Linked DNA regions of Homo sapiens. The protein of the gene in region 3 interacts with the protein of the main gene of each other region in a pairwise test. Each region holds a gene or a part of one and is shown on either strand. Other genes may lie near its edges. The genes, in order: MST1R, MECOM, PLXNB1 and MET.

Region 1 (8,563 bases), 1.5 Mb from region 3:
TGCGCTGGATCCGCAAAGAGGAAGACCGCCTCTTCATTCTCACGCCCCTCACCTATTGATGGGAATGTGTGCGGGCTCAGCCTTCCTGGACACACTAGGTGTGGGAAGCCATAGGAGCCTCCAGATGGGGGCTGGCCTCTCTTGCCCAGCCAGCGGGCAGGGACTGTGGGTTGGTGAATGCATTAAAGTGCTTTGGGGAAGACACTTGTCAAGCTCTGTCACTTGTCCCTTCGCCCATCCACCCTCACTCACATACAGACACTGGATCCTCCTCCGTAGCTCCTGCACAGGGACACAGGCACATTTGAGCCCCTCTCCTCCCTCCCTTGCACCAGCATGAGGCCACACACATTCTCAGCTGGATCTTGGGCTGGGGCCGTTTTGGTTTAGTTGAAGTCCTACCATATATAAAAAGTTCTCAGGCACCATACTGCCCTACCCTACCCCCACCCCCATATTCAGTCTGAGCTTCTGCTGTCTGCCTCTCTTATCACTCCTGGGAGGGGCCCCCTGCTGCATGCCACAAAAGACTACTCAACCACCTTCAGAGCCCTCGCTGTGGCTCTGTTTAATGGGTTGCTGTAGTTCAGCAGAAGCTGAGTTGAGTAAGATACAGATGGTCAAAATGGGGGGAGTCTGAGCCCTGGTACTGGATGGAGCCCCTGGTGAGGCAACCCAGTCTTCAGCTGAAATTCAGAATCCAGTCTCCCTTTAGCTGCAGGCCTCTGAGGAAACTGTCCCTGCTCAGGCCTTCCCATGAAGGGCTGTATGCCTCAGTTCTCCTACCTCAGCCAGTGCATTCCTCCAAATGGTCCTCAAGAGTGAGCTGAGGGTCTGAGAGAAGGCCCAGTTGACCCTCTAAGGCAGAAGTGGGCCTGCCATAATAAGAGCTAATACTGCTACGTGCACTCGGCCCTCCTTAGTCACCCTAGTCCCTGGCATGGCATAGGCAGACCTGCATGGGGCACCATGGACATCCAGGAGGCTCGGCAGTGAAAGCCCAGCCCCATTTACTCTACCACAGGACCCAGGGCACAATGCAGAGAGCTTCCACTTTGCTGCCGGGGGATCTTCTAGTTCTGGCCCCAGGGAACACAAGGCCTAGGAAGTACTTATTGGAGAAAACTGTCCTCTGAATGTGGTCTTCAGACTGTCAGAGAGAATCACCCTCATGCAGTTTCTGAGAGTTGAGCCAATATTTTCTGCTACTAAAATCAAGCCATATTGAAGAATGAGCCTGTGTGGGTGACATGGACCCAGGGTACACTGGAACAGTTGTATTTATTGTCCCAGAAAATGGCAGCACAGCCCCTGCCCTTGGCCCCACTGTGGCTCACATTGGAATGGGCATGGCAGCAGGCTACCAGCCCAGATTCCAAAGCCTCCGGGGAGCAGCCATAGGCTTGGTGGGTGCTGTTCACCCTGCACACATGCCCTGGGTCTCTTTTATGCCTGTTTTCTGCTTTTGTTCCTCCCCTGCTCCTAGTAAGAACACCAAACCACTGCCTCTGGGGCCTGGGTGATGCCAAGCCAGCTGTCCCTGATTGTTACTGGCATTCTGGTCAACAGTGAGCCCCTAAGTGCCTCTTTTGGTTGCCCTGACTCTTGTAGGTTTCTCAGCTTCTGTGTAGTTCAGCATATATTCTGGGGAGATCATAGTTGGATAAATGTGTATACCTAGGACTATAGGCACCTAGGAGTGTGGGGTGTACCTGCTTGGAGATCAGGGGTGGGAAGACAGACAAATAGGGAAGGTGTTCGTAGTGGAAGAGCCAGCATGTGCAAAGGGAAGGACCTGGTAAGAACCTAGTACAGGCCGGGCATGGTGGCTCACGCCTGTAATCCCAACACTTTGGGAAGCCAAGGATTGTATATCACTGGAAGTCAGGAGTTCCAGACCAGCCTGGCCAACATGGTGAAACCCTGTCTCTACTAAAAATACGAAAATTAGCTGAGTATGGTGGCGTGCGCCTGTAGTCCCAGCTACTCAGGAGGCTGAGGCAGGAGAATCGCTTGAACCCAGGAGGCAGAGGTTGTAGTGAGCCGAGACTGCGCCACTGCACTCTAGCCTGGGCGACACAGTGAGACTCCGTCTCAAAAAAAAAAAAAAAAAAAGAACCTAATATAACTTGTTTGCAGTGAAGCTGGAGTGGTCCACACAAGGGCTGGGGTTCTCAAACTCCAGGTAACCTGCAGTGTGATGTGGTCATATTACAGTTAGAGAGACTCCCTTGCTACTGCTAAGGTGATCTTGGGATTAGAGAAAGAGGTTAGACCTAGTTCTCTAGAACAGTGTTCAGAGGGGACTGAGAGCTCAAGGAGGGAAAAGTGGCTAGTATTCCTTCAAGGCGTCAGGTGCTAGGGCAGTCGAGCAGGTTCTTAGCCAGCTATGTTAGCTTGGGGGTGCCCTTGTACTTGGCACTTAAGAGTCCCATTAGCTGACCTCCCCCACACACCTTGACTGCCCCCTCCTATAGAGGCGGCAGATGGCGAGAGGGGGAAGGGGTGCTCCTGTGTACCCCTGCTGTTGAGAACCAAGGCTGCCTTACAGGGGACCTCAGCCTGGGGACAGCCATTAGCGCGGCCACACGGTGGCAGCGGAGAACTAACGGATGGTTGCCGCAACACCACCCCCAAAAAGGGGTGGGTGGGGTGATCTAAGAGGGCTTGTGAAGTCTTCTCCCAACCACCAGAGATCCCTCTGAAAGTCTGGAGGTGGGATTTGGGTCACCAGAACCCCTGTCTGTGCGCCAGGCTGAGAATGTTTCATTTTAGTTTTGCCTTGCCTATCTTTAGATGTGTTGACTGTGGAATGCAGGAACCACGCCACGGTTTTCTCCGGGTGTTTATTCATTTCCTGGCCAATTCTGCTTTGGAAAAGGAGTGTCTTTTATGTCACCTCAGGGCACAGTATCAACCCTGCACTGGGTGTGGCCGCCCCCACTTCCATTTCCTCTTTCAGTCTTCAGGTGCTCATGGAGCTCCAGGCTGGAAGGAGGGGGAGTCCTGCACTGGGGATGGAGGAAGTGAAGTATCCAGAGTAAACTGTGCTGGGGTGAGTGTAGCACTGGGTCTGTGAGACCCAGGAGAGGGGACTGGCAAAGTCTGGATCAAAAAGGCTTCCTGGAGGAGGTGCCATTTAGGTGGCAAAAGGAGAAAAGGGAAAGAGTGCTCCTGGAAGGAGGAACAGCACTTACAAAGGTCAGGTTAGGAAGGGGATGCAGGCACAGAAGTATGAACTGAAAGGGGAGTGAGGAGATATAGCTCCCCAAGCCAGGCTAAATCCTGTTGGGCTGAGGGCTCCTCTCTCCCCCAGCCTCCTTATCTACAGCCTTGGGGCCCATAGTTCACAGCCCAGACCCACCCTGTGGACCTTCCCTGTCTTCTAGGGTCCAGGCCTATCTAACTGAGGGGTCTGTCAGGCTAAGGTTGTCCCCCAGGGGCCTCAGTCTAGTGTTGGGGGACCAGTTACCAAGGGGCAGCTGCTGAGATCCAAGTGTGGGACTAGGCTCCCCCACCCCCACTCCTCATAAACAGAAGAGAGAACTCTGGGAAATCACCTAGTCGGAACTACGTTTTCTTTTTCTTTTTTTGGAGATGGAGTCTCGCTCTGTCACCCAGGCTGGAGTGCAGTGGCACAATCTCAGCTCACTGCAACCTCCACCCCCTAAATTCAAGCTATTCTCCTGCCTCAGCCTCCCTAGTAGCTGGGATTACAGGCACCCACCACCACGCCCGGCTAATTTTTGTTTTTAGTGGAGATAGTTTCACCATGTTGGCCAGATCTGTCTGTTCACCATGTTGGTCTTGAACTCCTGACCTCAAGCGATCCACCCGCCTCGGCCTCCCAAAGTGCTGGGATTACAGGCGTGAGCCACCACGCCCGGTCACATATTTTATTTTAAAAACATTTTTAGCAGTTTTTTTGTTTTGTTGAGTTTTGTTATGTTGCCCAGGCTGGTCTTGAACTCCTAACCTCAAGCAATCCTCCTGCCTTGGCCCCTCAAAGGAGTGCTAGGATTACAGGCATGAGCCACGGTGCCCAGCCCAGAACTACATTCTCATTGAAGAGAATAAGATCCAGCAAGGCCTACAGAGCATGTTGGAAGTGTCCTGAGAGCCAAAGCCCATGATTCCTCCATATCAGGGGGGCACTGGGTAGAGCCAGGAAGGAAGGGGGAGTCCCCAAGGCCCATACTGTGGACCCCATTATACAGCTTCCATATACTGAGGCTGCAGAGGAGGTATGGGCCTCCACTTACGTGCCTCTCTGACTCTGAGGTCCAGTCAGCAAGGCCAGATCCCATCCTAAGACCCTTATGGCCCTGGGAGAGCAGGGCATAACACACCTTCCTCTGACACCATCTTGTCGCTGATAGCTCAGGAGAAGCACATGGAAGAATGGTCCCGGCCGGGCGCGGTGGCTTACGCCTGTAATCCCAACAGTTTGGGAGGCTGAGGCGGGCGGATCACCTGAGGTCAGGAGTTTGAGACCAGCCTGGCCAACACTGTGAATCCTGTCTCTACTAAAAATACAAAATTAGCCGGGTGTGGTGGTGCGCGCCTGTAATCCCAGCTATTCAGGAGGTTGAGACAGGAGGAGGTTGAGGCTGGAGAATCGCTTGAACCTGGGAGGCGGAGTTTGCAGTGAGCCGAGATCGCGCCACTGCAATCCAGCTTGGGCCACAGAGCAAGACTCCTTCTCAAAAAAAAAAAAGGACAGTCCTTTCCCACAAAGGGTGGCGCCCCATAACATCTCTTGTAAGTGCCCCACATCTCCCCTCTGGTCTTCCACACAATCCTGGTCTCTGTTCTCCACATGGTGGGCCCCCAGGCCACCTCTGGGCACCAGCCACTGAGGGTGTTGCTACTAAGTGCAAACTAGTTCCACCGCAAGCAAAGAGCCCAGTGTCCTGCCCCCCTTCTCGCTGCGAACCAGTCGGTAGTGGGGGGATGGGATGGGACGGCTCAGACTGGCTCACCTCTCTCCAGGCCACACCATGCACATCCACCCACAGGCCGCTGAGAAAAAGGCGCCAAGACGCCAGGTGAAGGTACAGGAGCCAGGCCTCCAAGGGCCGGAAGAGTCGGATGGGCGGAGGGCCTGGGCTAGGCCAAGCCTTCCTCGCGGCCCCGCCCCCACGGCCCGACTCCGCCCGCCCAGCCCGGCGCCCTCGGGTCGGCTGAGCGCTAAGCGCCAGTGTACAGCGGCGGCTGGGGCGGCAGGTGAGGCGGCTGGGGCGTTGCTGTCGTGCGTCCGCAGGCGTCAGGTGCTCAGACCCGAGGGCCGGGAAGGGATTTGGGTTTCACAGGAACCTGGGGCGGGGGTCCGCTATCTTGGGGCTGTCGGGACCGCTGCTTAAATTTGGCCCAGTCCAGACCTCGAGTCGGGCCCCCAGCCAGGCCCACGCCCAGGTCCAGGCCCAGGCCGGTAGGGATCCTCTAGGGTCCCAGCTCGCCTCGATGGAGCTCCTCCCGCCGCTGCCTCAGTCCTTCCTGTTGCTGCTGCTGTTGCCTGCCAAGCCCGCGGCGGGCGAGGACTGGCAGTGCCCGCGCACCCCCTACGCGGCCTCTCGCGACTTTGACGTGAAGTACGTGGTGCCCAGCTTCTCCGCCGGAGGCCTGGTACAGGCCATGGTGACCTACGAGGGCGACAGAAATGAGAGTGCTGTGTTTGTAGCCATACGCAATCGCCTGCATGTGCTTGGGCCTGACCTGAAGTCTGTCCAGAGCCTGGCCACGGGCCCTGCTGGAGACCCTGGCTGCCAGACGTGTGCAGCCTGTGGCCCAGGACCCCACGGCCCTCCCGGTGACACAGACACAAAGGTGCTGGTGCTGGATCCCGCGCTGCCTGCGCTGGTCAGTTGTGGCTCCAGCCTGCAGGGCCGCTGCTTCCTGCATGACCTAGAGCCCCAAGGGACAGCCGTGCATCTGGCAGCGCCAGCCTGCCTCTTCTCAGCCCACCATAACCGGCCCGATGACTGCCCCGACTGTGTGGCCAGCCCATTGGGCACCCGTGTAACTGTGGTTGAGCAAGGCCAGGCCTCCTATTTCTACGTGGCATCCTCACTGGACGCAGCCGTGGCTGCCAGCTTCAGCCCACGCTCAGTGTCTATCAGGCGTCTCAAGGCTGACGCCTCGGGATTCGCACCGGGCTTTGTGGCGTTGTCAGTGCTGCCCAAGCATCTTGTCTCCTACAGTATTGAATACGTGCACAGCTTCCACACGGGAGCCTTCGTATACTTCCTGACTGTACAGCCGGCCAGCGTGACAGATGATCCTAGTGCCCTGCACACACGCCTGGCACGGCTTAGCGCCACTGAGCCAGAGTTGGGTGACTATCGGGAGCTGGTCCTCGACTGCAGATTTGCTCCAAAACGCAGGCGCCGGGGGGCCCCAGAAGGCGGACAGCCCTACCCTGTGCTGCGGGTGGCCCACTCCGCTCCAGTGGGTGCCCAACTTGCCACTGAGCTGAGCATCGCCGAGGGCCAGGAAGTACTATTTGGGGTCTTTGTGACTGGCAAGGATGGTGGTCCTGGCGTGGGCCCCAACTCTGTCGTCTGTGCCTTCCCCATTGACCTGCTGGACACACTAATTGATGAGGGTGTGGAGCGCTGTTGTGAATCCCCAGTCCATCCAGGCCTCCGGCGAGGCCTCGACTTCTTCCAGTCGCCCAGTTTTTGCCCCAACCCGGTAAGCTGAAAGAAGGGGCCCTTACTTGTGAGCTGCATGCACATGGCTGAACACAGGCTGCTTCCCTTCCATCACTGAGGGGATCTGGGGGCGCGGTGGGGGGGCAGGCGGAAAGAAGCATTCTCTCTCACCCAGTTCCTAAGTGCTGGGGTGGTGTGAGAAACCAGCCAGACAAAGGCTACACTGGAGGCTTAGCTCCCAGGCTGGCCCTTGTGGCTGCCTCATCTTGCTCTTTCCCCTACCTGCCCATCATGGCCTCTGGTTTTTTAGGTAGTTTCCCTGGCTATGTGAGGATAGGGTTACATAACCGTGTCTCTGTTAGCATAGCTCCTGAATGCTGGGTAGAATGATGGGCATTCCCTCCTACTTGTCCACCACCCATATCCTCAGGGACACACGCAGAAAAATAGCACTCCCCCCTCCCCTCCCCCACCCCCGCCACCACCACCACCACCACGCACAAATACACAGGGAGATGCTCACAGATTCACAGACTCACAGCTGCTTGCCAACAGTTTCACTTTCCCTTGTTTTGCTCTGCTTTCCAAAGGGGGTGGGACGGGAGTTGTCAGAGAATCTCCCCTTCCTCCACACCCCCTCCCCCCACCCACCCCCATCCTTCTGCCAGCCACCACGTTCCAGGGAGCCTCCTGGGCCTTGGAAGTTGGGAGCTTGTTAGGGAGCCTGCATGTCCTGGGCTTCACTAACGTTTTTGCCATGATTGGGGGTGATTGGGGGAGTACCCAGAACTCATGGAATGGCAGCTTGGTTCTAGAAGGTTCTGGGAGCCTCACTCTAGTCTTGTGCAAGCAACTATAAACATCTGGGGATAAGTAAAGGCCTAGGAAGGGCTGGTTGGAATTGGTCCATCCCAGACTTTTTTTTTTAACTGTATTTGGAGCCCTACCCCAGGCAGGAAGTCTCAAAGCCTGTGCTGAACTGGGGGCTCCTTCCACAGACTCTATCTAGGTTCTCTCCAGCCATCGTGTAGGCAACAGCAGTAAGATTGGACCAAGGAATGGGACCCACAGCTACTGTTCTTAGATTCTCTAGCTATCATCCTGTGGCCCTGGGCCTGCTGTGACATTCTCGAAAGACTCCTTTCCGCTCCTATTGATGCCTCGGAGATGGGAGAACTTACACCCAATGTGAGGTTGGGGGTCTTTAGCCTCCCTCCCTCTGCTGAGTACATCTGGGTTGAGAGGCCCTAGGGTTGGGGACTCCTTGTCTGGGCCTGGGCAGGCCTGCCTGGCCCCTTCTCCTTCCCAATGGGGAGTCAGAACCTCTCCCCAGCTTGCCTAGTGGTCAGTGGGTCAGAAGACACCCAGCACGGCTGGGCAGTGCCAGGCTCCAGGAAGACTAATCTTGGTCCCTGCTCACAGGCTGGCCAGGCCCCCAGGAGGTGTGTGAATCACCCCGTGCAGTGTTTGCCCAGCAACTCTGGGCATGCAGCCACTAGGGCAGCACCCACATAGTGGTTGGCCTCAGGAGGCCTGAGGGACTCAGAGCTGGTGCCTGTCCTCCATGGGACATTGGACACTTACGTGTTTTCAGGAGCTGGGGGCCCCTACCTAAGCCTGGGAACGTAGAGCTAAGGTCCTGGGGCTAGGGACAAGCAGGCTAGGGTGTGGGCCTGACTAAGGTAGGGCTCTATTCCCCTTCAGAGCCCCACCTGTCCCTGAGTCATGCTAGAAACACCTGGCAGCCTTCCGGCTCGGGCCAAGCCAAGCCGATTTCCTGCCTCAAGTGAGGACAAAATCCCAGTCCCCACCCACCCCAAGCTGTAGGCACAAGGTGTATGGGGTTTCGAGGCTCAGCTCCACATCTACTTTTGCCTCCAGGGCTACTAATCAGTGCTGAGGTCTCAGGA
Region 2 (7,671 bases), about 120 Mb from region 3:
AAGAGAATTAGGCAAAATATGAAAATACTCCGATGTTAAATAAGTTCAATAAAAAATTATCCAGATGTTCCATGAACTCTTGACAATGTTCAAGATTAGAATGAGAAAGTAAATGTGAAAATGTTTGTAATATTCAAAATATGTAACAAACATATTATTATTCATACCCATTTAAAGAAAACTAGTATTTTAAAACTAAATCACTTTGGTCAGGTGAATATTACTGAATATTGCCAAAAAGGCCTTTTATTAAACTTGTATGTTTCACCCCAAGATTTTTTTGCTACATCAAAGGAAACCGGATAATGAAGCTATTAAACAGAGACATTTTTTAAGCCAACTACTCATATTATATACAAAACATATTCTGTGATTAATATTTCATTTACTTGGGGGCTCCTGAGAGATTTATTTAGAAACAATATGACCAGCCCTTATTAAGGATGTGTTGGTAGGTCAAAAAAGAGTGGACTCTTGCTGTTAGATATCCCCCCCATTCCAAAGAACCTGACCCATTTAAGTACCCACGCATATTTGCATTAATCCTTCAGGATCCTCATTCTTCCGCCACTTGACAATTTACTTTAAATATGACTTTCCCATATTTTCCACTCCAAAAAAAGTGTTTAAAAATAAATTTATTGTCAAGGGAAAAAAATTCTGTAGGCCTATTCCAAACCCCCAACTTCAGAAACATCCAAAAATAAGTTCAAACAGAATGATCCAACTTTCAGAATAAAAAATGAGTTCACTAGATCAAACAACTTCACTCTGTTTTATAATAATAGTAAAAATGATGTGTTAAAAAGCCATCACTTTACAGTGGAAATACCGCCTTTCATACATCTGCTCATATTTCGTCATCTTCCATACACGCTTACCTGTAAATAGGGTCCATAAAGAAAGGAGTGGGTCTTGCATGCTGCAAGGAACCATCTGAAGCAGGTCTTGATTCGACGTTGCTTCCTTTTTTTCCCCCAAACACGTGGTTTTTTCGAGGCTCAGTCAGCTTTGTCCCACTGGCTCTACTCCTACTGCCCATACTTAGATCCAGGGGCTGGTCTTGGCTTGTGGCAGGTGTCACTGGAGGCTTGGAGGGGACTGGAGTCAAGGGCTTCTCATCCTTTCGCTTAGTGGTGAGATCAAAGGGGGACTCAGAGCTGCCCTTCTGCAGTTTCTTTACTTCACCTGGTGATTGGGGTTCCATTTTCAAAGGTAACGATCTCAAGTCTCTATCAGGAAATGGGTACATTGATTGAGAGAATGCTGGAAAAAATGGGAGGGGAAACATGGAAGGGTAAGGTAAAGCTCCAACTTTTTTGTCTTGCAGCCCCACCAGTCCTGTTGAACCAAAGTATTTTTCAGCAATAGAAGCAATAGCCTTTATAGAATCATTCACAGCTCCTGACACCGCAGTCTGCTCCTCTAAAGATGGTGAGAAAATGGAATGATTGCTGTATTCTTTCTTATTATTTATTGAAGCCAGATTCTGAAGAGGGCTTACTTTGTCTTTGAACATTTTACCATTTTCTTTAAATTTCTCTTTATCACTTTCAATGTCACTTTCCAGATCAGAGCCCGAGGTTGTTTCCAGGTCACTGCCACTTGGTGTACTGACATCATCAAGGTCACTACTCTCTGACTGGTCACTGATTTTCTCAAAGGGCCTCTCTTCAGAGGACCTCTCGGGCTGGAGCTCCACTGGCTTATTGTCCCCTACAGATGGGTGTTTAGATAGTGCCTTCAAAATATCCTGTGTAGCTGGCAGTATCTGAGGATGTGTCATGAGGGGACTTTGACTTTTGTTTGTCTGTTCAGTACTTGATAGTCCTTTAACAGGAGAACTAGCAGGTATCAAAGGAGGCCTGTGGTACAAGCCGGAAGGAAACAGACCAGGGAAGCTAAAAGAAAATCCAGGAGCTGTTGGAAAGGTAAGACCAGCAGGATGCCTATTGGCGCCAAAATAGTCAGCAAGGCCCGGGTTGGCATGACTCATATTAACCATGGACGTTTTATCCATAGCTGGGGTTCCAGGAAGTGAAATGCCTTGGCCAAAAAATCCACCTGCCGCAAAATGGTTCTTGCCCTCACAAAACCTCCTGTGTTTATTTAAGGAAGACGTAGTGCTGAACATTTGTCCACAGTCTTTGCACTTGATTTGGGTTCTGCAATCAGCATGCATGCGCTTATGACGGCAAAGGTTTGAAAACTGAGTATAGGATTTATGGCAGACCTCACCTGTGTGCAAACAACAAAAAAGAATCTCAGGCTTTATGTCAATTGCTTCTGAATTTAGCAAATATCACAATTGGTTTACTCAAAATTTCAATTAGGAAGCCAGTAAAAGACATTGGAGGCACCAATCTGGGTGCTCCAAACACAGAAAACCCCATTTCACTAGATTCCAAAGCAAGGCAACCAACCTGACAAATGTCTTGAGGCAGCACAAATATTTCATATATATAGATATATATATCTTGTCACCCCCTTGTGCAATATTTTGCATAATATTTGTGTATTTAAATATTTATGAAAAGTTAAATTCCATCATGCATTGATTCTCCACACAATTATTATACTAATATAATGTTGAAAATTAGTCTTAAAATGCATTACGTACAAAACACAACAAGAACCCCTTTCAAATTTTAGAGTACTTAAAAATTCTATTTTGTAGGCACCAAAACAAAATAAAATATCCTCAACCAGAAACTTCACCTTTATTGCCTCTCCCCTTGGGGAAAAAGCCTGTGACTGCCCTGCTATTATTTAATTGGTATTATATCATATGCTCTCATCATTCACACATCAAAGCCACACAACAATGCACATTGTGTATTCTGAGACTTTTTTTAACAATCATTTTCATGATTTGAGAAAGACTGACATAATTTACAATGGCTCTATTTTAAGCCTGCAAAGGAAACTAAATTGAATGTAGCCCATCCTGCATTGCTGGTTCCCATGAACTATGATCACGTCCTCTGACTTCCCCTCACACCAGTGGTTGTGCTAACCTTCCTGCATTTATGAAAACCCCGTCCTTGGGAAACATGTCCACTTGTTGTCATATCTACACTGGTTATCTCAGGCTTGACTTCTGTGTGTTATAGCCAACTATGCTCAGTAGGGGAGAGCACTGTGAAAGCTCTAATCCAGAAAGAAGGGCACAGCATTGGATGCAGCTGTGAAATATGCCTCTTTGCTAAGAATTTGTCAATAAAGTAGAATCTTCCTCCTCACACATGTGCCACTATAGCCAAGTATATTTTAAGACCAAACTTTGTAACCCTTAATAACTCCTTTACCAGGTAAGAATCACTCACTTCACTGTCCAGCAGTATTACAGTATCAGTACCCTGAGCATCACATTTTTTATTTTACTTTACGGGATTGAGCCACGTTATGTGTGAGCTTATTTTAACACTTCTGTGCATGTTCAATACATGCAGAAACAAGATGTACCTTGTTGGTAATTGTTGAAGCAAATTTATTTTAAGAAATTAAATTGAAGACAAAATGCAACAGTTATTGCTTTCATATGATGGCTGCCTTTAAGTGCAGAATGATTGTGCTTCTAAGTCAAAGCAATAATAATTAAAAAAAAAAACTCATGTCAAGGAGATTTTATAGACTTTCAGTCAAGCAAAACTCACCCAGAGCTTGGATTATCCCACATACATCCAAACAGGAAGTACCAAGTAAGGGTATATCTCTTTCTTTTACTACTAAAGGTTAAAGTGTATTGTTGCATATATCAAAGTGTTTGGTAATATTAAAGGTGCCTTCAATTGTGGGATGAATCACAACGTTACAGAGGCTGTAACATGCATTTTAATGGGAATAGAAGATGTGGGTGATATCTTTTCAAATTATTTTACCAGAATATATCGACCAGAGTCAGCTTTAAAAGTATATACAATTTAACCATACACCATAAATATACATCTAATTTAAACTGTTTGATACACTAATTAAAATCAAATAATGGAGAAGGTAGAAACATCAGATGTTTACTAGATATATTAGAATAATTTATAGCTACAAGCAATAACAATATTTTATTATTGGAATTATAAAAAGTAAGAAAGCAACACCTCTTAAAAGGCATTGAAAAAATGTCTTGATGAGTATTCAACCAAGACATAAGTTTTTCAAAGACTTGTCATTTTTTGGCAAGGAAATGTTGCTCTCTACACTTCTTTCTTACAATCAGATGGCTTAAAAAAAAAAAATCAAGAGCTTCTCTCTATTGGAGTAACAGAAGTTCAGCTGACTTTTCTGGTGGCACCCGTTGTTACATGGCTGAGTGCTGTCTGTGTCTGGGCTCAAGAACATCGAATCTGGGATGTTTTCTTAGGCAGAGGCTTTGTTTTCGGCACTTGAAGGCCTGGCCTGGCATACCACAAACTACCAGGCCTCCAGGTAAACTGGTTCAATTGATGTTGAAGTTTATACTCTACTGTAATTTTCTCAGTAATAAGGAATTAGCCAGCAGTTAACATTGCATTTTTCTACTTATTAAACAAATTAAGAGGCATTTTGAATATATTCAGCCTATTAGAGCATGTGGTTTCTATTTGGGAAAGCTGTAGGTTTCTGTAAAGGCAGTGAGTAATTACCTTAGCACTGGTGACTTTGGGCTCAAGCGTGGCAGCACACTGTAATAAGAGACAGTTGCCATAAACACACCAGTGGGGGTAAATCGTGGTGTGTGGCCTTCTGGTGAGAAACAGATATCAGCCCTAGGTGAACCTCCTCCACTCAAGTCTCCACACCATTTCCTGATCTTTAATCTCTTTTGTTCTGAAATTACATGGCTATTATTCATAATTACTCCATGGTTCTCTGGCAGATTTTAAATTTGAAGAATGCCATCTGCTATTTAAATTTACCAATAATTACTGAAAATACATTCAAGGGAAATACTTTATGCAATCTGATTGGAAAGGGACACCCTATGGCACTTTAAAGTGAAACACTTGTCTTCAACACAATTAAAATTCCAGATCCCAGAATCTTCGATAGCAGAAGTCTATATTTTCTGACTTTTATTTTAAATAATAGAGAAAGCATTAAATGAGTGATCAGAATTCCTTGTGGTTTATTCTAGTTTTTTCTCACATCAAAACATAATAAAACTTACCAAAATTTATTTCTGAGGAATCAGAAATAAATGAACTATTTAATATCGTATGCCTGTAGTACTTCCAAGTACATTTTCAGGGCATTAAGACTTAAGAGTCAGGAATGCCTTTTTGCGACAAGAAGTCTAAAATTTCTATTGAATGCTTTATTTCCCGTGACCTTCAATAGAGCTTCCCCAAGGGAGATGAGAGCACCCTTTTTTAATCTGCTAGTCCTCTTCACCCGGGGAACAGAAGAGCATATGAGCAAAACAGGACTCTAGTGTAAGCTGGAAAAGGAAAGAAAAGCTATTTTGGTGCTTGGACACACAAAAGAAAGCTGTGTCGAGGCAAAGGAGAGTTAGTCTCTGGCATCTCCATGTTGGCACTGAAAAATAGTTTTTTCCATCAGGTCCTGTAGTAGTGTCTCATATACCTACTACAAACCAAAGTCAGAGGTCTTGCCAAGTGCTGAGTATGCTTCAACCAATTCTATGTGTATCTGGGTCCAAAATCAGTCTTGACGTTTGTAGCACAACTCAATAAGTCATTGTATTTATATGCCCCGCCAAGCAATGGATTAAAAGAAGCCCAGATTTTTTGCCCAGGTAGACTAAGAACAACTGATTTTACTTATAAAATGTTTGAGCACAATACAGAGAATAGGAGTGGGCGGAGAGAAGAAAAAGCAAATGAGAGCTGAGTTTTATTGTATTTGAAGGATGTTACTACAGTGCTCTGTACAGGGATGTTCTAAGTAGGTGGTCAGATCAGATGTCCCCTAAAAGCACACTGCCTATAAACTTGCTTTGGTGCAGTGGGTAAGAGAAACAGCATGTCCAGCATCTAAGTGAAAATGTTCTGCTTTTCTTCAAGTAACAGAGAACTACAGATCCGACAGCCTGTGATCGGCAACAATGGGTAGATTAAAAAGCATTTCATCCCCCTCGCTCTCTCCACACACATATACTCACATACATGCACACAGAGCCGTAAGCCTACTTCCCAGGTGGGCTTCTTCCAGCTCTTTCTGATCCAGAACAGGTTTTTAATCACTTCATCTTGTTTAGTGATGGCTGCTATTTGCTGCTTTACAAAGCCATGAACATTTACAATATGAGACAAATCTGATTGTCCTGATTAAATCCTACAACCTGTGGAGGTTTCCCTTTGATTATCTAATGAATTTTCTTTTCTCTACCTGTTATTGATTTCTTCTGAAAGAAAACACCCCAGGAATCAAGGACAAAATACCATGGATCTGATTATAAAAGATTTACTTGTAATCATAAATAGCCCTACTGGATTGGACCATAAATAGCTAACACGGTGACCCTCTAAAGGCCATGTGCAGCCACTCTCCTGGTCACAGTGCCTTTTGGGGAAGAGACAGATGTGGGAAGGAGGGCTGGAGTGTTGAAAACTTACAGATAAAGGGCTTCACACTGCTGTGGATGTGCTTGTGTTGTTTGAGGCCCGACGAAGTGGCAAACGTTTTGCCACACTCCGGGCATGCATGGGCCCGGGCACCGACATGCTGAGAGCGAATGTGCCGCTGAAGGTTGCTAGGGTCCGTGAAAACCTGCTAGGAAATGAGTACTGATTAATCAAGAAACTTAACTCAAGGGCACAATAAAGAAGACCCGGGATGACTCAAGAAGAAATTTTTCTTATTTGTTTTGTTTTTCTTTTCCCCAAAGACCAAAAGTGTACTCTCCTCTAATTTCCAAAATGTACTCTCCTCTAGGGTAGGAACTGTAAATTATTCTGCTCTATATCCTTAGCATGGTGTATCCACTGGTATCAGTTGAACCAAATAATGAATGGCACTATTAGGCCATATTCAAGGCCTTTTTGATACCATTTAGAGTGACTTGAGTTGAATAATAAAATGCTGGTTAAGCCATTATTAAAACTGGTGTGCTATTTTCACCCTTTAAATAAAGACACATTGTGTACAAAAATTTGGAGGATTTTGACTAACTACATTAAATCTATTTAAAGAGTTTCCCTAGGGCGTAAAATTCTAACACTCTTTCAGTGAGTTACTAGCAAGCTAAAACCATTCCTTTAGACATTGTACTAAAAACAAAAATAAAAAAGCCACCCAACACATCTGAGAGCAAAACATCCCTAAAGAAATTTCAAATGTATTTTTTAATTTTTATGAGAAAAAAACATACAAAATTTTAATGTGCATAGAACAAGGTAATCACAGGAGAATGACTACCCAGTAACCTGGTGGGGTACAGAAATTTCCATTGGCATGAAAAAAAAAAAGCTATTAAAATGCTAGGAAATGTGTTTTGGAAATAGAAAGCAACTTTAATGACACCAGGACATCTTTGAGTTAATCAAGAAACATGAAATTAAAAGAAGTGAATTACTTTTACCATAGTTCACAGTTATGGTCTAAGTTGAGTACTTCCATATCATCCCTATGTTGTTCAGCACTGACAGAGGCTCTATACATTTTAATTAGAACCAAGTCATAATTTATGGTGAGCCCTTGGTTGGAAAAATCTGCAAATATAAGAGTCACCCA
Region 3 (7,671 bases):
CCACCCACAGCCCCCAAAGCCCTGGCCACCCCTGCTCCTGACACCCTTCCCGTGGAGCCTGGGGCTCCCTCCACAGCCACAGCTTCGGACATCTCACCTGGGGCTAGTCCTTCCCTGCTCAGCCCCTGGGGGCCATGGGCAGGTTCTGGCTCCATATCTTCCCCTGGCTCCACAGGGTCGCCTCTCCATGAGGAGCCCTCCCCTCCCAGCCCCCAAAATGGACCTGGAACCGCTGTCCCTGCCCCCACTGACTTCAGACCCTCAGCCACACCTGAGGACCTCTTGGCCTCCCCGCTGTCACCCTCAGAGGTAGCAGCAGTGCCCCCTGCAGACCCTGGCCCCGAGGCTCTTCATCCCACAGTGCCCCTGGACCTGCCCCCTGCCACTGTTCCTGCCACCACTTTCCCAGGGGCCATGGGCTCCGTGAAGCCCGCCCTGGACTGGCTCACGAGAGAAGGCGGCGAGCTGCCCGAGGCGGACGAGTGGACGGGGGGTGACGCACCCGCCTTCTCCACTTCCACCCTCCTCTCAGGTGATGGAGACTCAGCAGAGCTTGAGGGCCCTCCCGCCCCCCTCATCCTCCCGTCCAGCCTCGACTACCAGTATGACACCCCCGGGCTCTGGGAGCTGGTGAGGCCCAGCCCAGGAAGGAGGCCTCAGGGGAGGGGATGTGGGGAAGATGCTACCCCTAGCTTGCCTTGTGATTCTGCACTGGGAGGAGGTGAGGGGCAGGGTGGAGTCTGCAGCCCCACACCGGCCTTGCCTCTGGAATCTGGCAAGGCAGAGGGCTGAGCTGGGCAGGGTGGGCTCCATAGACTGCCTTGCCCTTGGTGCCTGCAGGAAGAGGCGACCTTGGGGGCAAGCTCCTGCCCCTGTGTGGAGAGCGTTCAGGGCTCCACGTTGATGCCGGTCCATGTGGAGCGGGAAATCCGGCTGCTAGGCAGGAACCTGCACCTTTTCCAGGTCAGTGTGTCCTGCCTGCCGCTGTCCTTGCAGCCTCCTTAGCTGTTGAGAAACTCTGCACAAGCCCTGGGGAGCAGGAGGAGGGCAGAGTCCGAGGGCTCAACTCCAACCCAGAAGCTGTGCTGGGGGATCTGTTGGGTGACCTGCAGGACTCCCTGGGCCCAGCTCCTGAAGCTGCCCAACAGCTGTGTTCTCTGCCCTCAGGATGGCCCAGGAGACAATGAGTGTGTGATGGAGCTGGAGGGCCTCGAGGTGGTGGTTGAGGCCCGGGTCGAGTGTGAGCCACCTCCAGATACCCAGTGCCATGTCACCTGCCAGCAGCACCAGGTGCACACCATGAGCGCCTGGGTGGGCACGGGTGCACTGCACTGGCCACAGGCTGGCTGCCAACTGTAGCTGGCTGCACCACACTTTCCAGAGCCACGCTCTGACCGTGTCGCCCTGAGGGAGTCTCCACACCCATTTCTGACCTCTGACCATGTGCCCCGTGGAGTCCTTGCATCCCAGCTCTGAACTCTAACTTGAGACCCCATGGGGTCCCCATACTCCATTTCTGGCTCTGCCCTCCAACTTGTGGCCCCATGGGGTCCCTCTGACCCTATGCTCCTAACTGGTCGTTTTAGTCCTTTCTCTGACTAACCCCTCCCCAGGCCTGACACTTCCCCCAGTGCTTGACTCTGAACCCACTCCCATTTCTCCAGCTCAGCTATGAGGCTCTGCAGCCGGAGCTCCGTGTGGGGCTGTTTCTGCGTCGGGCCGGCCGTCTGCGTGTGGACAGTGCTGAGGGGCTGCATGGTGAGCCACCTGCGGGCTGCTGGGCTGGCGGTGGTAGCAGGGCTCTCCCAGGCCTGCCTCTCACGTGTGTCTCTGCCACCCCCAGTGGTACTGTATGACTGTTCCGTGGGACATGGAGACTGCAGCCGCTGCCAAACTGCCATGCCCCAGTATGGCTGTGTGTGGTGTGAGGGGGAGCGTCCACGTTGTGTGACCCGGGAGGCCTGTGGTGAGGCTGAGGCTGTGGCCACCCAGTGCCCAGCGCCCCTCATCCACTCGGTTTGTTGAAAGGCTGGCCATCCCTTCCTCAGTGCTGCCCTTAGAGGGAGGGTGTGGGGGCCCAAAGGTGGGAGGTTGGGGCTGCCTTTCCAGTTGAGTAGAGGTGAGCAGTCCTTGTCCTGGAACAGGTGGAGCCACTGACTGGGCCTGTAGACGGAGGCACCCGTGTCACCATCAGGGGCTCCAACCTGGGCCAGCATGTGCAGGATGTGCTGGGCATGGTCACGGTGGCTGGAGTGCCCTGTGCTGTGGATGCCCAGGAGTACGAGGTCTCCAGCAGGTAAGCTGGCTGCACCCAGCAGGAGCACGGCGCAGCCTGGGGCCTCCGCGGTTGGCGTTGCTGCTTGGGGCCTCCCACCCACCGCTCATCTGCCCCCCTCTCTCCCTGTTCCTTGATCCTGGCCACAATGCCCGAGTGCCAGCGTTGCCACTGAAGACCCTGAGCACCCACCACACCTGTAGGTTCCTGGCCTGGGCTGCTGGGGAATCCTTCCTGGGCCCGTCACTGCCCAGAACTGACTCGTGGCTCTGCTTCCTGCTCTGCTCACCTGGTCTTCTGAGGGACTGTGGATATATTAATAGCTGTGGCAGCAGGACCCTCAGATCAGACAGATAAGCTCAGGGGCTGGCCTTCTCACCAGCTCACTCTTCCCCAGGCATTGTCCTGGGCTGCCAGGCTCTTCAGGAAGGTAGACTTGGAAGGCACACCTCAGAAAGGCACACTGGCCGAGGGCCAGGCTCCACTGTCGTCTCTAGGGACCCCTGCTGCCTTCCTGGGGCTCCTGGGTTATGGTAACCTGGCCAGCGGTTGCAGGCCCCAAAGGTACACACGCAGGACATTCCTAAGGAGATGTCCATAAGCAGCAGGGCCCAAACGTGGCTGAATATCAGGGTAACCTGCAGATCCTGTCCCAAACCAACACAAACATCTGGATTCAGGAGGCCCACGGTGGGGCCCCCAAATCTGTATTTGAAACAAGGAACCACTCTCCTGGAGCACGGAGTGTCCCCTGAATGTGTTATGACCGAGAACTTACGGTGACTATCTAGACTGTTAGTGTTCCAGACCATAAGACTGCTGTGATTTATGAAGCAATTAGCATATATTCTGTCTGGAGCCTCCCCTGGGTGGCTCACACGTCACTTGTGTCTTCCTAGTGTTTGCAACAACTGTGACAATGTCACTGAGTTGAGCCACTGCAGGCTTAACACTCTGGAAGTTTAATTTGCCCAAGCTTCTATTTTCTGGCTAAGAACCAGCATTTTCTTAGATGGTTCACTTTCCCTTCACCTGTATTTCCCTGTCTGACTAGAGGCTTTCAGGGACTCTTTTTCCTGAATAAATCAAGTTTCTACCATGCTTTGAGTGGGTACTGTGCATGTGACGTGGCGGAGGACATGGGCGGCTAGCTGTGCCCACTCACTTGCTCAGCAGCTCGCCCCACAACCAGGCTGACAGGGCCCCTTTGTAAATTTATGCCACAGATAAATTCTTCCTTATTGGGGGCCCCTGGGGTTGAACTTAAATGATTGAAGCCACAAATATTAATTCTCAGATACCAAGGCCTTCTGATGTGTCATAAAGAATTCCCTCCAAAGTGAGAGAGGGTCTCTGTCAATCTTATGGAGCATGGGAAGGGGAAGACCACCTGACAGTAGGGCAGGGAGAGGGGCTGCCAGGTAAGCTTGAGGGGCCCTTGATGCAGCCTGGCACCCCCTAGCCTGCCCTGTGCCTACAGCCTCGTGTGCATCACCGGGGCCAGTGGGGAGGAGGTGGCCGGCGCCACAGCGGTGGAGGTGCCGGGAAGAGGACGTGGTGTCTCAGAACACGACTTTGCCTACCAGGTACCTGACTGCTGAGCCACCCCCAGCTGCCAGCGGGCCAACCTCTCTGGTGGCTCCTCTCAACCCATCTGGTTATTCCTTGGTGGGGCTCCCAGTCCTGGGCCAGCCTGTCTCTCAGGCTGTCCCTGCCTCCATGTGTCTGGTCTGATGCTCATCTCTCTCCCTGTCTGTCCCACAGGATCCGAAGGTCCATTCCATCTTCCCGGCCCGCGGCCCCAGAGCTGGGGGCACCCGTCTCACCCTGAATGGCTCCAAGCTCCTGACTGGGCGGCTGGAGGACATCCGAGTGGTGGTTGGAGACCAGCCTTGTCACTTGTGAGGGCCACTTCCTCATCCTGCAAAAATCCATCTGCTCCAGGGGAAAGATGGAGGGGTCTGAGATCCTGGGGAGAGCAGAAAGGGGAAGAGGGCCAGTCTGCTCCTTCAGAGAGTGGCCAGACCCTCCCTAGCCAGCTGTGGTGGGAGTGCACCTCCAGGGACACCTGGTGGAGACTGCAGTCAGCGCTTGAGGGAAGCCAGTTGGGGCCTGAGTGGTCCAAGTTTTCCCTGCCTGCGCCCCTGCATTCATTCCCACCTCCCCTCCCAGGCTGCCGGAGCAGCAGTCAGAACAACTGCGGTGTGAGACCAGCCCACGCCCCACGCCTGCCACGCTCCCTGTGGCTGTGTGGTTTGGGGCCACGGAGCGGAGGCTTCAACGCGGACAGTTCAAGTATACCTTGGACCCCAACATCACCTCTGCTGGCCCCACCAAGAGCTTCCTCAGGTGTTGGGCCAGGGGTGTGGCTGCATGGCAGGTGGCAGGGAGGTCTTTGCAGCTCCACTATGTGGGGGTTTGTAGGGCTTTATGTTGAGGCACTGAGAATCCCATGCTGCTAGTAGGGGCAAGGGGTCGTGTGGTTTGGGGCTGGGGCTGAGCTGACCTAGCCGGGACTGGGCTGTGCTTTAGGTCCAGGTAACATAAGCCATCTTACGTTACGTAAGCTCACGGTCTGTTTCAGTGGAGGACGTGAGATATGCGTCCGTGGCCAGAATCTGGACGTGGTACAGACGCCAAGAATCCGGGTGACCGTGGTCTCGAGAATGCTGCAGCCCAGCCAGGGGCTTGGACGGAGGCGTCGCGTGGTCCCGGAGACGGCATGTTCCCTTGGACCCTCCTGCAGTAGCCAGCAAGTAGGACACCCTTGGGTACCCCCACACTCTCCCCTTGCCCCATACCACACCCTGGGGACAGCCAGAGCAGGTGCCAGAGGAGGCTCTTCCCATCTTTGCTTGGCCCCTCGTCAACCTGCCTGTCTTCCTTCCAGTTTGAGGAGCCGTGCCATGTCAACTCCTCCCAGCTCATCACGTGCCGCACACCTGCCCTCCCAGGCCTGCCTGAGGACCCCTGGGTCCGGGTGGAATTTATCCTTGACAACCTGGTCTTTGACTTTGCAACACTGAACCCCACACCTTTCTCCTATGAGGCCGACCCCACCCTGCAGCCACTCAACCCTGAGGACCCCACCATGCCATTCCGGCACAAGCCTGGGAGTGTGTTCTCCGTGGAGGTACAGCTCCTACTTGGACCTGGCAGGGCCCCGAGACCCTTCCCTTGGCTGGACAGCACTGCTGTGTGTGGCGGAGAGGCCGAGACAGTAGAGCAAGGGCCGGTGGATGGACATGGCTCCTCATCCTTGCTGTGGTGGGGGCAGAGGGGGCTGGTGGGGGGTGCCTAGCCTAGCATCTGGCACGAGCTGGACTGCTTGGCTGGTGGCCCGGGTCCTGATGCACTCCATGGCAGGCTCTGGAATGACTGCATTTGTATGTTCGGCCTGTGCAGTAGCTGGGTGGTGTGGTCCACATAGGCCATCGGGCTGACCCCCGTTGGCAGCCTGGCTCACATGGACATGCGCTAGGCATGTGTCTTGGACATACACAGTGGGCAGCAGATGGGCATGCGGGCAGACCACAGGTTGATACAGCATCATCACCCCCCTGGTGAGTCATCAGACACAGATTGGGGGCTCCAGCTTTGTTAGGTAGCTGGGCAGGATTTGGGAGGCAGCTTTATGTTCTCCAGATTTTTCGTTCTGGAGAAGAAAGATAGGAAAGGGCAACAAAGGGTGATGAGGAGCAGCTTGGAGGACACCGTGTGACTGGCCTGCACTCGGGAAGGGTGCTGAGAGGCTGTCAGCTTTGCTGCTGCGGCTGGGTCTCAGGGTCCTTCCCACATTTGGGGAGGACAGGATCTGAGGGAAGGGTCCTGAGTGACTGATCGGTGACCCTCTGTTCCAGGGGGAGAACCTGGACCTTGCAATGTCCAAGGAGGAGGTGGTGGCTATGATAGGGGATGGCCCCTGTGTGGTGAAGACGCTGACGCGGCACCACCTGTACTGCGAGCCCCCCGTGGAGCAGCCCCTGCCACGGCACCATGCCCTCCGAGAGGCACCTGACTCTTTGCCTGAGTTCACGGTCAGTGGGCAGGTCCCTGGCCGGGCTGGGCATTGACCTGGGCCAAACCCTTGCTCACAGGTGGCTCCTGACACAGGTGCAGATGGGGAACTTGCGCTTCTCCCTGGGTCACGTGCAGTATGACGGCGAGAGCCCTGGGGCTTTTCCTGTGGCAGCCCAGGTGGGCTTGGGGGTGGGCACCTCTCTTCTGGCTCTGGGTGTCATCATCATTGTCCTCATGTACAGGTGGGTGCAGCCAGATGTGGCTGGGCTGGGGCAGGTCGTGGGATCTGGCTGGACTGGGAAGGGACAGACCGGGCCAGGAGTCAGGAAACATTCTCTGTAAATGGCCAGAGAGTAAATATTTTCGCTTTGCAGGCCAAGTGGTCTCTGTTCAACAACTCAGCTTTGCCACTGTGGCACAAAGGCAGCCAGGGACGACATGGAAACACATGAAAGTGGCTGTGTTCTAACAAATCTTTATAAAAATAGGTTGTGGGATGGATTTGGCCTGGTTGTGGTTGGCTGATCTCTAGGCTAAACTGTGCTGGGCTAGACGGGGCATGGGTGTGTGTGACTTGCTTGGGACGGGACAGGCTGAATCGTACTGGGCTAGGCTTGAGCTTGGCTGGCATGGCTGCATTGGACTGTGCTGGATGAGGCCGGGGTGTGCCTGGGGATTGTCAGGCAGGCCTGGGCGAGTAGGACTCATCTGGCCATCCTCTCCTGACCCTGGGGCTGAGCAGGAGGAAGAGCAAGCAGGCCCTGAGGGACTATAAGAAGGTTCAGATCCAGCTGGAGAATCTGGAGAGCAGTGTGCGGGACCGCTGCAAGAAGGAATTCACAGGTGTGGCTGAGAGAATGGGCCCCGCCCTCCAGAACTCTGCCCAAACCCACTCCCATCACACGGGATTGGTGCTTAACAGGTGCTTAACCTGGCCTCTTCTGCTTAACAGACCTCATGACTGAGATGACCGATCTCACCAGTGACCTCCTGGGCAGCGGCATCCCCTTCCTCGACTACAAGGTGTATGCGGAGAGGATCTTCTTCCCTGGGCACCGCGAGTCGCCCTTGCACCGGGACCTGGGTGTGCCTGAGAGCAGACGGCCCACTGTGGAGCAAGGGCTGGGGCAGCTCTCTAACCTGCTCAACAGCAAGCTCTTCCTCACCAAGGTACCCCCAGCTGCATCTTCCTGGCCTGCCCCTGGCCCTGCCCCTTCTCCAGGGCATGGTTTCTGAGCCCGCCCCTCTGTCCCCCTAAACCCCTTTTCCCATCCCTTCTCTTTGGCTGCAGTTCATCCACACGCTGGAGAGCCAGCGCACCTTTTCAGCTCGGGACCGTGCCTACGTGGCATCTCTGCTCACCGTGGCACTGCATG
Region 4 (5,353 bases), on a different chromosome or scaffold from region 3:
TGTGTACTGTTACTCCTGGCCCCACCCCCTCCACCCAAAACTCTCCCTCTGCCCTCATATTACCTGCACCTATAAAACAAAGTCTCCCTGTTCCTCAAGACCCACCTTACTGTCACTCTCTTCCTGCAGCCTTTCTCAGTACCCTACTATTATCTCTTTGACTTTTGGCAACCTTTGTACCTCTTTGATATTACTGCTCTATATTACAGCTATTATCTTATTGTCCTGTGTGGCAGTTATCTGCTCAATTCTCTTAACCCTGTTCATTCAGCCCTGGGACCTATCTAGTAACTTGAACAGTAACCTACTCGTATGTGATCAAGGGTCAATTGATACTTGTTAAATTGATTTTAAATGTTAATGCATATTCTGGGACTTGAAAGTTAACACGATGATGTTGTCAGAAGTGATTGTTGATTGTTAAGATTTTCAGACTTTGAAAACTTCTACTTTGCAAAGCTGAATTAGACAGCAAAGTTCTGTAGCTCCCTCCTGGCAAGGGGTTTGAGTTTTCTGTTGGGATCAAGGCAGTCAGCAGCCATCAAGGGTTCTTGCACTTGGGCAAAGAAGTCATTAATGGTAATTTGTATCAGCAATTACAGCATCTACCTCATTTCTTTCTTTCAGTCGCAGCGTTCAAAGGCAGGCTTTATTCTCCTTCTTGCTGGGTACTGCAAGCTACACTTGCCTCTCAGTTTTATGTCTTCCTACTCCAGCTGTCTGGTGTGGATTTTCCTTCTGCTCCAAGCTTCCTTCATTTCTTCCTCCTTATGCTTCCTACTCTTAGAGTGGCCTGGAAGTGTTGCTGGGCCAGAACTGCCCCCCTGGGTCCTGTCCACAGGGGCGGCCTCTGCCCATGCTGACTCTCCTCGTGTCATTCTTGCATGGGCACATGTCCAGGGGGAGATAATATGTATGACCTGGTCTATCCTGAGCACAGTGTTTTAAATCAAGAAATTGCATGTTTATTGAAGTTCAGTAGACCAAACAAGACCTAAGGGTCAGGAACTCTTAAATGTTTATCCCAGTGTGGACTCAGATGTATTGGGGAATTTTAGCAAGTCACTTAACCTCTCCGTGTCCCTGTGATCTTCCTATATAGTACTGATACGGCTATTTTATATGAATCTAGTACTTTCACATCTTCATGTGACAGTTTTATTGAAATTAATTTTCAATAGAGAAACTTGTTGCCTTGCAGTTTTTTTTATTTCTGATTTTTAATATGTATTTTTACTTATGTTGATTTAGACCTTCCCATTTAATAGTAACCTTTCAATGTGGTTACATTTCTTAAAGAGTATTTATGTTCAGTTTGAAACCACACAAATTTAAATTTTGGGAGGCTTTCTTCTTCTTTTACAAGTAATGTAAAATTGTAGTGAAGCTATTGGAAAAGAAAAGGATAGAAACATGTTAGTGCTTTGACACAGCGGGAGAGAATTTTGGAAGAGATATTCTACCAACTACAGATGGAATCTTCATCATCATGTAGACTTCAGATATTCTTTTAGAAAACTTTACATTTACTTATAATCTAAACCTTACTTGTTTAAACAAGTCATGAAATGTATAGCTTAATAATTGCCTTTAAGAAAATTGTTGCCCAAAACAGAAACCGTATTGAGTATGTAAAGCCAAGTTTAGTTACCAAGACCTACTGATTTCCTTTCATATATGTATGGTCACATCTCTCACCTCATCTGTCCTGTTTCTTGTTTTACTAGTGGTCCTTTGGCGTGCTCCTCTGGGAGCTGATGACAAGAGGAGCCCCACCTTATCCTGACGTAAACACCTTTGATATAACTGTTTACTTGTTGCAAGGGAGAAGACTCCTACAACCCGAATACTGCCCAGACCCCTTGTAAGTAGTCTTTCTGTACCTCTTACGTTCTTTACTTTTACAGAAATGCCTGCCTTCAAAGGGTCTCTTACAGCATGTCTTTCTTTTTGGAACAGATATGAAGTAATGCTAAAATGCTGGCACCCTAAAGCCGAAATGCGCCCATCCTTTTCTGAACTGGTGTCCCGGATATCAGCGATCTTCTCTACTTTCATTGGGGAGCACTATGTCCATGTGAACGCTACTTATGTGAACGTAAAATGTGTCGCTCCGTATCCTTCTCTGTTGTCATCAGAAGATAACGCTGATGATGAGGTGGACACACGACCAGCCTCCTTCTGGGAGACATCATAGTGCTAGTACTATGTCAAAGCAACAGTCCACACTTTGTCCAATGGTTTTTTCACTGCCTGACCTTTAAAAGGCCATCGATATTCTTTGCTCTTGCCAAAATTGCACTATTATAGGACTTGTATTGTTATTTAAATTACTGGATTCTAAGGAATTTCTTATCTGACAGAGCATCAGAACCAGAGGCTTGGTCCCACAGGCCACGGACCAATGGCCTGCAGCCGTGACAACACTCCTGTCATATTGGAGTCCAAAACTTGAATTCTGGGTTGAATTTTTTAAAAATCAGGTACCACTTGATTTCATATGGGAAATTGAAGCAGGAAATATTGAGGGCTTCTTGATCACAGAAAACTCAGAAGAGATAGTAATGCTCAGGACAGGAGCGGCAGCCCCAGAACAGGCCACTCATTTAGAATTCTAGTGTTTCAAAACACTTTTGTGTGTTGTATGGTCAATAACATTTTTCATTACTGATGGTGTCATTCACCCATTAGGTAAACATTCCCTTTTAAATGTTTGTTTGTTTTTTGAGACAGGATCTCACTCTGTTGCCAGGGCTGTAGTGCAGTGGTGTGATCATAGCTCACTGCAACCTCCACCTCCCAGGCTCAAGCCTCCCGAATAGCTGGGACTACAGGCGCACACCACCATCCCCGGCTAATTTTTGTATTTTTTGTAGAGACGGGGTTTTGCCATGTTGCCAAGGCTGGTTTCAAACTCCTGGACTCAAGAAATCCACCCACCTCAGCCTCCCAAAGTGCTAGGATTACAGGCATGAGCCACTGCGCCCAGCCCTTATAAATTTTTGTATAGACATTCCTTTGGTTGGAAGAATATTTATAGGCAATACAGTCAAAGTTTCAAAATAGCATCACACAAAACATGTTTATAAATGAACAGGATGTAATGTACATAGATGACATTAAGAAAATTTGTATGAAATAATTTAGTCATCATGAAATATTTAGTTGTCATATAAAAACCCACTGTTTGAGAATGATGCTACTCTGATCTAATGAATGTGAACATGTAGATGTTTTGTGTGTATTTTTTTAAATGAAAACTCAAAATAAGACAAGTAATTTGTTGATAAATATTTTTAAAGATAACTCAGCATGTTTGTAAAGCAGGATACATTTTACTAAAAGGTTCATTGGTTCCAATCACAGCTCATAGGTAGAGCAAAGAAAGGGTGGATGGATTGAAAAGATTAGCCTCTGTCTCGGTGGCAGGTTCCCACCTCGCAAGCAATTGGAAACAAAACTTTTGGGGAGTTTTATTTTGCATTAGGGTGTGTTTTATGTTAAGCAAAACATACTTTAGAAACAAATGAAAAAGGCAATTGAAAATCCCAGCTATTTCACCTAGATGGAATAGCCACCCTGAGCAGAACTTTGTGATGCTTCATTCTGTGGAATTTTGTGCTTGCTACTGTATAGTGCATGTGGTGTAGGTTACTCTAACTGGTTTTGTCGACGTAAACATTTAAAGTGTTATATTTTTTATAAAAATGTTTATTTTTAATGATATGAGAAAAATTTTGTTAGGCCACAAAAACACTGCACTGTGAACATTTTAGAAAAGGTATGTCAGACTGGGATTAATGACAGCATGATTTTCAATGACTGTAAATTGCGATAAGGAAATGTACTGATTGCCAATACACCCCACCCTCATTACATCATCAGGACTTGAAGCCAAGGGTTAACCCAGCAAGCTACAAAGAGGGTGTGTCACACTGAAACTCAATAGTTGAGTTTGGCTGTTGTTGCAGGAAAATGATTATAACTAAAAGCTCTCTGATAGTGCAGAGACTTACCAGAAGACACAAGGAATTGTACTGAAGAGCTATTACAATCCAAATATTGCCGTTTCATAAATGTAATAAGTAATACTAATTCACAGAGTATTGTAAATGGTGGATGACAAAAGAAAATCTGCTCTGTGGAAAGAAAGAACTGTCTCTACCAGGGTCAAGAGCATGAACGCATCAATAGAAAGAACTCGGGGAAACATCCCATCAACAGGACTACACACTTGTATATACATTCTTGAGAACACTGCAATGTGAAAATCACGTTTGCTATTTATAAACTTGTCCTTAGATTAATGTGTCTGGACAGATTGTGGGAGTAAGTGATTCTTCTAAGAATTAGATACTTGTCACTGCCTATACCTGCAGCTGAACTGAATGGTACTTCGTATGTTAATAGTTGTTCTGATAAATCATGCAATTAAAGTAAAGTGATGCAACATCTTGTATACTGATAGTGGTTATTGCCAGTCATGCTTGATTACCTGCATTTGCATAATGATAGAGGAAGCCTAAGATGGATTTCACCTGGCTGCATAGAGCTCATCCATGTAGGAGAGCCTTAGTCAAGTGAATGCTGAGGAAGTAGTAAAACAGCATGCATCCCCGAATCTCAGGAAGTCTCTGTCTTTCCAAGGGTTTGGTCTAAGTTGCTGATTACCTGGATTTTTCTGACGATCTTTCAACTGCTAGAGCATCTGGTTCCTGTTTTAGCATGGTGCTCTTCTCCAGCAAGGTGTGTCCTTAGACTAGAAGACACAAAAATGGAGCAGCAGCCACACCATTGGCGCACAGATACCTAGGTGTGGGTTGGAGAGAGAGGCCTTCTTGCCCCATCAAAACTACTCTTTATCTACACAGGTGCCCACCCTTTTACCCCCAGTTACCAGAGAAATTACCTTCAGGTTATCTCCATGTATATTCTTGTAATGGTAAGGGAATTCAAAGGTGATAATTTCAGCCATCTAAGAATTGTGTGACACATTGGGGGTAATCTAATTTTAAAAGAACCCAATTTAAAATAATGCCTACAAAATACAATGGACACTGATCCTTTACTGGGAGATAATTCAACCCCCGCTCACGGCCAAACTCTCTCCCACTCAAAAGATGCATTTCCCCAGAAAGTTCAATCCAACTCTCTCCCATAAGGAGAACAACCTGTCATCTTTACATCTCTAGAATCCGGCACTTAGTAGATTCTCAAATAATTGCTGAACTGAAACAGCATTTTCTTATTCCCCATCACTTTATTTATTTATTTATTTATTTATTTATTTATTTATTTTTGAGACAGGGTCCCACTCTGGCCCCCCCAGCTGGAGTGCAGTGGCATGATCTTG

The links.
Region 1: the proteins of PLXNB1 (region 3) and MST1R interact in binary tests that used the Homo sapiens proteins (3 or more experiments, as listed by UniProt).
Region 2: the proteins of PLXNB1 (region 3) and MECOM interact in a two-hybrid assay, tested with the Homo sapiens proteins (one study listed by BioGRID).
Region 4: the proteins of PLXNB1 (region 3) and MET interact in binary tests that used the Homo sapiens proteins (3 or more experiments, as listed by UniProt).

What each region holds. Positions count from the first base shown.
Region 1 is NC_000003.12:49,900,510-49,909,072, reverse strand, and holds the start of MST1R (macrophage-stimulating protein receptor isoform 1 preproprotein), read left to right. Parts: upstream 1-5,199; 5' UTR 5,200-5,463; coding exon 5,464-6,693; intron 6,694-8,563. Other genes in the region: MON1A (vacuolar fusion protein MON1 homolog A), read left to right, coding at 1-59. UniProt on the Homo sapiens protein: Receptor tyrosine kinase that transduces signals from the extracellular matrix into the cytoplasm by binding to MST1 ligand. Regulates many physiological processes including cell survival, migration and differentiation.
Region 2 is NC_000003.12:169,114,502-169,122,172, forward strand, and holds part of MECOM (histone-lysine N-methyltransferase MECOM), read right to left. Parts: intron 6,712-7,671; coding exon of another isoform or gene 6,709-6,711; coding exon 6,555-6,708; intron 2,239-6,554; coding exon 882-2,238; intron 1-881.
Region 3 is NC_000003.12:48,412,536-48,420,206, reverse strand, and holds part of PLXNB1 (plexin-B1 precursor), read left to right. Parts: coding exon 1-630; intron 631-840; coding exon 841-963; intron 964-1,167; coding exon 1,168-1,290; intron 1,291-1,664; coding exon 1,665-1,758; intron 1,759-1,843; coding exon 1,844-2,016; intron 2,017-2,144; coding exon 2,145-2,296; intron 2,297-3,755; coding exon 3,756-3,861; intron 3,862-4,039; coding exon 4,040-4,176; intron 4,177-4,447; coding exon 4,448-4,624; intron 4,625-4,859; coding exon 4,860-5,031; intron 5,032-5,165; coding exon 5,166-5,408; intron 5,409-6,135; coding exon 6,136-6,312; intron 6,313-6,388; coding exon 6,389-6,537; intron 6,538-6,669; coding exon of another isoform or gene 6,670-6,820; exon of another isoform or gene 6,821-7,037; coding exon 7,038-7,138; intron 7,139-7,247; coding exon 7,248-7,465; intron 7,466-7,586; coding exon 7,587-7,671. UniProt on the Homo sapiens protein: Receptor for SEMA4D. Plays a role in GABAergic synapse development. Mediates SEMA4A- and SEMA4D-dependent inhibitory synapse development. Plays a role in RHOA activation and subsequent changes of the actin cytoskeleton.
Region 4 is NC_000007.14:116,793,928-116,799,280, forward strand, and holds the end of MET (hepatocyte growth factor receptor isoform b preproprotein), read left to right. Parts: intron 1-1,727; coding exon 1,728-1,864; intron 1,865-1,959; coding exon 1,960-2,197; 3' UTR 2,198-4,450; downstream 4,451-5,353. UniProt on the Homo sapiens protein: Receptor tyrosine kinase that transduces signals from the extracellular matrix into the cytoplasm by binding to hepatocyte growth factor/HGF ligand. Regulates many physiological processes including proliferation, scattering, morphogenesis and survival.